Linked DNA regions of Homo sapiens. Changing the gene in region 2 together with the main gene of any one other region gives a genetic interaction. Each region holds a gene or a part of one and is shown on either strand. Other genes may lie near its edges.

Region 1 (3,655 bases), on a different chromosome or scaffold from region 2:
TGACCTTGTGATCTGCCTGCCTCAGCCTCCCAAAGTGCTGGGATTACAGGCATGAGCCAGCGTGCCCTGCCGAATCTGAGTATTTCTTCATGTGTGTTTTATCTTTTTTAATTTTTTGTTTGTGAAATTGCCTGTTCATCCCTTCACCCATTTTTATTTTGGGGTTTCAGTTCTTTCTTGTTGATTTGCGGACATTTCTTGTATTCCATAGATACTAATCATTTAAGTATTACAAGTGTATCTGTTCCTAATCTGTCATTTGTCTGTAATCTTTCTCATGATGTTCTTCATTGAACAGAAATCTTATATTTTGATATAATCAAATTAAAAAATCTTTTGGCTATATGGTTGTATTTTGGAGGTTTTGTTTAAGAAATCTTTCCCCAGTGCTGTGCCACAAAGTTACTCTGCTATGTTATGTACTGCTAATTCATAGTTTTCTTTTAAACTTATTGGTCTTTAATACATGCAGAGTTTAACTTTTTATGTGTCACAAGTTTGTGATCCAGTTTATTTTCCATGTACTGTGCCAGTTTTCCTGGCATCTTTCTTCCCTTTTCCCATAGATATGGTGTCACACTGTGTATTAAGTGCTCATATATACTCTGAATATTGAGTCCTTTCCTTTGGTTTGTCTGTTCTTGCTCTAACACTATACTGTTTTAACTCTATGGTTTTGTAGTAGTATGTTTTTTCCTCCTATATAAATAACTCTTCCCATTTATTTTGTTTTAACTTTATTTTGATATAATTATAGGTTCATAGGAAGTTGCACAAATAGTAAAGAGAGGTCTGGTTTCCTCCAGTGGTTACATTTTATGCAGCTTCACCCAAGGAACTTCCCTCAATAGTTACAATTTATACCACTGTAGTACAGTATCAAAACCAATAAATTGATTTTGTACAATGCCTGTGTATAGTTCTGTGCCATTTTATCACCTGTGTGGATTCCTGCAACTACCTCTGCAATCAAGATACAGAGCTAGGCTGATGTGGTTGACCATGCCCGTAGTCCCAGCACTTTGGGAGGCTGAGGTAGGCAGATTGCTTGAGCCCAGGAGTTTGAGACCAGCAACATGTCAAAACCCCGTCTCTGGCAAAAAATACGAAAATTAGTCTGGTGTGGTTGTGCATGCCTGTAGTCCCAGCTACTTGGGGGGCTGAGGTGGGAGGATCACCTAAGCCTGGGAAGGTTGAAGCTGCAGTGAGCTGTGATTATGCCACTGCACTCTAGCCTGGGACAGAGTAAGACCCTGTCTCAAAAAAAAAAAAAAAAAAAGAGGAAGAAGATATGGAACTATTCTATCACTACAAAGATTTTCTTCATGTTACCTCTTTCTAGTTTCATCCACCTCCCTTACCCTCACCATCCCTTAATCAGTTTAATCAGTTTCTATCTCTATAATTTTGTCATTACCAGAGTGCTATATAAATGGAATCCTATAGCATGTAATCTTTTGAAATTGAGATTCATCCAAATTGTTGAATGAGACAGTTCTTGAGATTCATCAACATTGTTGAATGAGACAGTTCTTGAGGTTCATCCAAATTGTTGCATTTATCAATAGTTTGTACTTCTTAATTGTTGAGTAGTATTCCATGGTACGTATGTATCCAAGTTTAACCATTCACCTGCATATCTGGGCTGTTTTTAATTTTTGGCTGTTACAGATAAAGCTGCTGTGAACATTCTTGTACAGTTTTGTGTGTGTGTGTGCGTATGGATTTAAATTTTCATTTTTTGGGGGATAAATGCCCAGGGACATGGTTGCTGGATGGTATGGTAAGTGTATGTTTAGTTTTTGAAGTAACTCCCAAAGTGTTTTCTGGAGTGGTTGTACCATTTTACATTTCTACCAGGAATGTATGAGAGATTGCATTTCTTTGCATCGTCTTCCACTAGCATTTGATACTGTCACTGTTTTTTTTTTTTTTTTTGGAGATGGAGTCTTGCTCTGTCACCCAGGCTGGAGTGCAGTGGCGCAATCTTGGCTCAGTGCAACCTCCGCCTCCCAGATTCAAGCAATTCTCCTGCCTCAGCCTCCCGAGTAGCTGGGACTACAAGCGCATGCCACCACACCTAGTTAATTTTTTGCATTTTAGTAGAGATGGGGTTTTACCATGTTGCCCAAGCTGGTCTCGAACTCCTGAGCTCAGGCAATCTGCCCGCCTCAGCCTCCCAAAGTGCTAGGATTATAGATGTGAGCCACTGCGCCCGGCCACTATTTTTTTTTTTTTTAACTGTTCTGATGTGTGATGATATCTCAGTGTGGTCTTAATTTGCATTTCCCAAATTAGCTAGTGATGTTAAATATCTGGTAGAGCACTTTCTCTCATCTTTGCCCATTTTCAAAGTTTGGCTCAGCTATTTATGTATTTTTATTCTTTCCTATGTATTTTAGAGTTAGTTTGAGTTTCTAAAAACAATACCAGTAGAACTTTGACTTACAGATTTATTTTGAGGAAAATTGATATCTTTATAATATTAGGACATTTTATCTGAGAACATGGAATGGTCTTTCACTTATGACTTTGAGTAAAATATTGTAGTTTATAAAAATACTGTGAATGGTATACTATTTTTTAAGTAGATTAGTGCTGATACAAGAAAATGCTATTGATTTTCATATATTGATAATCTACCTTTGTCTTTTTGTGTTCTACTAGACAGAAATCAAAATTCATAGTGTAAATCTTGAAGTAATTTTAGTGCGTGTAGAGTGAGGCCTGGAACTATGTAGTGCCTTTATTCCTGGGTTTATCTGTTACATCTCCCTGTGACAGTTTTTTAATTTGTTGGGACTTTTTTTTTTTTTTTAGATGGAGTCTCACTCTGTTGCCCAGGCTGGAGTGCAGTGGTGTGATCTCAGCTCACTGCAACCTCCAACTCCCAAGTTCAAGCGTTTCTCCTGCCTCAGCCTCCCTAGTAGCTGGGATTACAGGTGCCCGCCAGGACACCCGGCCAATTTTTGTATTTTTAGTAGAGATGGGGTTTCACCAGGTTGGTCTCAAACTCCTGACCTCAGGTTATCCTCCCACCTAGGCCTCCTGAAGTGCTGGGATTACAGGCGTGAGCCACCATGCCTGGCAATTAAATTATGGAGTTAGTGAGGTTTGTAGGTTCTGTTCTCATTTTTGTCCATTTAATTCATGCACTTTTTGAAGAATTAATAGTCTTACATATGTGCATGCCATTGATCATAGGCAAAATCAGCTGAGAGCTATGGATAGCTCAGTGAAATTCTGCCATCAATAAGAGGACATGTTCTCACTGACAGGTACTATGATAGTAATGTTAACTTACAATTTGAATTCCATCCATATGGTTCGTTTGTCTTTGTCTGTATCTGATTCTTAAAGCTGCTTTGCTGAATACAAAAGAACACAAACAATTATGTTGGAAGAAGAAATCCTACATCATGACTGCATTCAGAAAGTCCTTGTGAGTCCAAGGAAATTTTTACTTCCTTTCTATTAAGGAACATATATATTACATTCATGAAGTATTTACTATTTTAAATAAAATTGGATTTTTTTTCAAACTATGTTGGTGACGTTTAATGAAATTACAGGGGTTTTTTTTTTTGGCTGTTGATTACTTGAGTTAGTGGGAGCCATAAAATGTTGGAACAACGAATGTTAGGGCACTGGTCAG
Region 2 (5,448 bases):
CGTGTCACCTGAGAGGTGTAACAAAAGCCCCCAGAGGATGCGGCCATGAACACAACATGCATCCAAGTGTTCTCAGGTGGCAGGGAGGGGCAGGGTGGTGGAGGAGGGCGCCAGTCTTGCCCCTGGGGCAGCGAGGGACACACAGCCTGTCTGAGATTGCACATCAGGCTGGGAGTTCCTGACTAGCCCTGACTGCTCAGAGCTAAAGATGGACCCTGCTCAGGAGGAGCAGTACCCGGCCTGTGATGGGGCCAGCCTGATACCCCTTGGCCAGCCCCGCTCTGCAAACAACTTTCTGATGATAACTCAGCCCCTGGAAAGTCAGACAGGGAGGAGGGCTTCACCAGTGTTTGTCACTAGATTAAAACTGTTTCTCAGCTGGGCGCACTGGCGCATGTCTATCATCCCAGCACTTTAGAAGGCCAAGGAGGGTGAGAATTGTTTGAGCCCAGGAGTTCAAGACTAACCTGGACAACACAGTGAGACCCCATTTCTAACAAAAAATACAAAAATTAGCCACGCATGGTGGCATACCGTTTCAAAAAACAAACAAAAAACCCCCCAAAATTCGTTTCTCCAAAATGGAAAAAGCTTTGATGTCCTTTCTGATTATAAAAATAATAATCCAGGCTGGGCACAGTGGCTCACGCCTGTAATCCAGTACTTTGGGAGTCCAAGGTGGGCAGCATCATGAGGTCAGGAGATTGAGACCATCCTGGCTAACACAGCAAAACCCCATCTCTACTAAAAATACAAAAAATTAGCTGGGCATGGTGGTGGGCGCCTGTAGTCCCAGCTACTCGGGAGGCTGAGGCAGGAGAATGGCATGAACCCAGGAGGCAGAGCTTGCAGTGAGCCGAGATCACACCACTGCACTCCAGCCTGGGCGACAGAGCAAGACTCCATCTCAAAAAAAAAAAAAAAAAAAATCCACCAAGCATGGTGGCTCACACCTATAATCCTAATGCTTTGGGAGGCTGAGGTGGGACGATCACTTGAGGCCAGGAGTTCGAGACCAACCTGGGCAACACAGCAAGAACAACCCCGTCTTTACAAAATATATATATATTTTTAATTTAACATAACATAAACTCTTCATAAAGACTGCAGATGGCCAGGCGTGGTGGCTCACGCCTATAATCCCAGCACTTTGGGAGGCTGAGGCGGGTGGATCACCTGAGGTCAGGAGTTTGAGACCAGCCTGACCAACATGGCAAAACCCCGTCTCTACTAAAAATACAAAAATTAGCCAGGCGTGGTGGCAGCCGCCTGTAATCCCAGCTACTTGGGAGGCTGAGGCAAAAGAATCACTTGAACCCAGGAGGCGGAGGTTGCATTGAGCTGAGATCACACCACTGCACTGCAGCCTGGGTGACAGAGTGAGACTCCATCTCAAAAAAAAAAAAAAAGAAGAAAGGAAAGGAAGGAAAGGAAGGAAAGGAAGGAAAGGAAAGGAAGGAAAGGAAGGAAAGGAAGGAAAGGAAGGAAGGAAGGAAGGGAAAGAAGGAAGGAAGGAAGGAAGGAAGGAAGGAAGGAAGGAAGGAAGGAAGGAAGGAAGAAAAGACTGCAGACATCAGGCAGGAGATGACTGCAGCCACCCTGGGCAGGCAGCGCTCTCTCAACGAAGAGCTCCTGTCCACAGCACACTCTCCCCTACATAAGTACGGGGAGTGTCTCTCCAATACTGAGTATGTACTCAGGTGAGGGGTCCCACTTGCAGGTCCCGGGCCAGGCAGCTGAGGTGACAACAAGGACGGCTCAGACCACTGAGGCCCAGGCTGCCCAGATGCCCCATTTCTGTGAGGCCGGAATCTGGATTTCTTTGCAGGTGAGATCCCTGCTTTGTGGATCTCGCTGCTGACTGGGCCTTAGAAGCCCTGTGGGGCCACACGCACACCCAGGGGGTCTCTGCTACACTTGTTTCTGTCCGCCCTGACCCCACCCTCTGGCCGCCTGGCCTTCCCTCCGTCCCCACTCTGGGACAGGCTTGTGCCTACCTTGTCTAGCGCCTCCTGCAGCAGGCCCTCAGCGGCCTCCCAGCGGCCCTGGGCCATGTGGCAGGCCGCCTGCCCATTGAGCAGCAGCAGGGTGGGCGAGCACTTGTCAGCCATCTCCTGGAAGATGTAGTAGGCATCCTGCAGCTTCTCACCACCCTGCAGGGAGGGTCCCGCATCATTGCCTGTGCCCCTGCTGCCCGGCCCTTCCCCCGCCAGCCCCCTCCCCTAGCGGGGGGGACTCCAGCACTGCACAGAGACGAATCTGGTGTGCCCGGTTCAAGGCACAGCCACTCCGCCATGGGGACTACCCGTAACTTGTACTCTGCTGATGGGGCCTAAAGACTCGTGGCCGCCTCCTGCCCCACCTCCCACCCAGCTCCCGGAGTGCTGAGTACACAGAGGTGGAATCTGGGGCTTCCAAGGCCTCAGTGCACAGGTGGCTGGCTCAGGGTCTGAGTGGGGACCACTGGGTCACTGAGCACGTCAGAGGAGGAGGAGTCAGCTCTGTGACCAGCAGCCCTGACCTGTCCACTTGCTCAGAACAGCAGAACACTTGCAGGGGGAGCCTGAGGCCAAGGCAGGCAGTGAAAACAGCCCAAACTACCCGATAGGTCTGCCGGGGCCTGTCCTACCATACTAGACGGTCACTGGAAGTCTGTCTGGGTGAGGCTTCAGCCCCGTGGCGGGCAGGGACGGGGAGCACATTTTTTTTTCTTTCTCAGAGTTTCACTCTTGTTGCTCAGGCAGGAGTGCACTGGCGCGATCTTGGCTCACCGCAACCTCCACCTCCCGGGTTCAAGCGATTCTCCTGCCTCAGCCTCCTGAGTAGCTGGGTTTACAGGTGCATGGCACCAAGCCCAGCTAATTTTGTATTTTTGGTAAAGATGGGGTTTCTCCATGTTGGTCAGGCTGGTCTAGAACTCCCAACCTCACATGATCCACCCGCCTCGGCCTCCCGAAGTGCTGGGATTACAGGCGTGAGCCACTGCGACCAGCCAGGAAGCACATTTTAATAGGCCCACACAAAAGAGTGGCTCAGAAGGGGGCCAAGTCCCAGAAACCAGGAGAGGGGCTGTTGCCGGGCGGAGGTGCCCAGGCCTGGGAGCTGAGGACATCTCCACCGCTGCTATGGGAACACTGAACTCCGTCCCTGGCTGGCGACCAGGACCCTGGAGAGCAAAGCTGAGTCGCAGAAAACCCCAGGAAGCCCTGAGGGGAGGAGGGCCTGCCAGGCCAACCCAGACCCTCGAGTACCCCTGTGCCTCAGGCTCAGGAACCCGTCCCCGCCCCCACCATCTCTTCGCTCTGGCTCTGGCCAAGTCGCTTGGCTGTGAGAAGCCCGGAATGGAGTCAAGGCTGAGTTATGCCAGGCTGGCAGGGGCCACGGCCTGATCCTGGAGCCCCACTGGAGTGGCCAGCAGCCTACGCACAGGTGGGGGTGCCCACAGACCCTGCTCAGCCAGGTGCCCGCAATGCCCACCCACCTCATGGCCTAGGGCTCACCGTGGCCAGGCTGACCCAGGCAGTGGCGAGCTGGGTGAGGGTGGCATCCTCGTCCAGGTCCTGCATTCTCTTCAGCTCCTTCCTGGGGCGGGGACAGATGACAGAGGGGCTGAGTGGCCGAGGGCCCTGGCCTGGCCATCCCTGCCTTGTCCCCACTTGGGGCCCACCGGAGCCTGGGGATGGCCCCTGCTTTGTGCTCCACTGCATGCTCATACCCCACGACTAAGTGCCCGAGCCACCCTGCCCGTCTGACCACGTGCAGGCCCTGGGAAGGTGGGACTGGGGCCAGCTATGGCCCCCCAGGGTGGCCACCACAAGGTAGAGCTCAGGAGAGACTCACTCCATGGAGGATGGAACGCAGGGAAGGGCAACGGAACTACAGTGTGAACAACTCTGAGGCAAGGGCTTTGGAAACGGCAGCAGGGGAGTCCTGGACCCCCAGCCATGGCCTCCGACCTGGTGATGCCACGTGCAGGCCCCGCCAGCCCCACGGCACAGTTACAAGCTGGTCAAGTAACATGTTGCTCCAGGCACAACCTCCACTCTCCCTCCATGAAGCCCACCCTCACCCTGTGGGAGAGGCCTGCCACCCACTGCATAGAGAGAAACTGAGGCACAGAGAGCCATGGCCCTCCTCCCTGGCAACATACTGCAGGGAAGGGCTGAACGACAGCAAGCCACCCCCATGGAAAGGAAAGACAACAAGAGTAATGACAGCACCACAGACGCTCTGGGCTGTGACGCTCTGGGCTGTGACGCTCTGGGCTGTGGCTCAGTGCGGGTGGAGAGGGGCAGGAGGGCTCACCGGGCGAGGTCCAGGCGGTCCAGCTTCAGCAGGATCTGCACTGTCATGGCTGTGCTGCAGGACAGGGCGAGGGGGCGGTCAGCGGGTCGCCACAGACACATTGCATGGCCGCTCCACACCCAGGGCTCACTGTGTGTGTCTGGGATGTTCCTAAGTCCTGTGCTTAGGACCACCAGCCCCGCCCAGCAGAGGAGGACACCCTCACTCCCACATTTCACCGCTCAGCTTCCTCAGGCCCAGGAGCTCTGGGGGAGGTACCCAGGATGGGGTTTCAGGCCCCGGCCCACTCACCGCCCATCTGGAGAAGCAGCCTCCATGGGCTGTGCTTCCAGATGGAGGGCCCTGCCCGGACTCGACACCCTGGAGGCATCAACACTCAGGAACAAGGCCCTAGAGGAGGGCCACGCACCCGCCCCTGCACCTGCACCTGCAGCAGAGCCCTGGGGCCACCCACTCTCTGCAGGCCCCCTCGTCCCCTCATCCCTCTCAGCCCCAGGTGGCTGTGACCACGAATTACTCGTGAGGCCTCTTGTTCTTGTTTTCCTGCCAACAGGAGCCAGCACCTGGACCAGCACCGAGTCGGCCGGCTCGCCGACAGTGTGACATCCCTATTTATTTTCTTTTTTGTGTGTGAGTCAGGGTCTGGCTCTGCCACCCAGGCTGGAGTGCAGTGGCACCATCACGGCTCACTGCAGCCTCCACCTCCCAGACTCAAGGGATACTCCTGCTTCCGCCTCCCAAGTAGCTGGAAACATAGGTGCATGTCACCATGCCTGGCTCGCCCTGCAATTCTAAGCCCTCTGTGGATGGAGGTGGGATGGGAGCAGATCCACAGCGACCATGAAATGCCCAGCTTGCAACTCACAGTGGAAGGCAGGCACTGCAGGGACAGCTCACGGGGAAGAACTGACACACTTTCTGTGACCAGTGCCCTGGACATGGCCCGGAGTCACATCCTAGGGTGGAGGGGGGCACCAACCTTGCAGGGCTTCAGCACCCCAACCCCAGAGGGCCCTGGAGGAGGGCCGGTATGGGGGGCCCGGGGAGGCCTGAGAGACTGGGCCCAGGGCCGAGACACAGAAGGCTTCGTGGGGGGTGGGGACACAGAAACCGAGCAGAGACAAAGCCGCTTTCTGCTCTGCC

Evidence for each region.
Region 1: changes in COPE (region 2) and WDR7 together harm fitness more than expected from each alone (negative genetic interaction), as found in Homo sapiens cells (one large-scale study listed by BioGRID).

Annotation. Positions count from the first base shown.
Region 1 is NC_000018.10:56,654,359-56,658,013, forward strand, and holds part of WDR7 (WD repeat-containing protein 7), read left to right. Parts: intron 1-3,655.
Region 2 is NC_000019.10:18,901,271-18,906,718, forward strand, and holds part of COPE (coatomer subunit epsilon), read right to left. Parts: intron 4,666-5,448; coding exon of another isoform or gene 4,597-4,665; intron 4,360-4,596; coding exon 4,306-4,359; intron 3,583-4,305; coding exon 3,501-3,582; intron 2,154-3,500; coding exon 1,998-2,153; intron 1-1,997. UniProt on the Homo sapiens protein: The coatomer is a cytosolic protein complex that binds to dilysine motifs and reversibly associates with Golgi non-clathrin-coated vesicles, which further mediate biosynthetic protein transport from the ER, via the Golgi up to the trans Golgi network.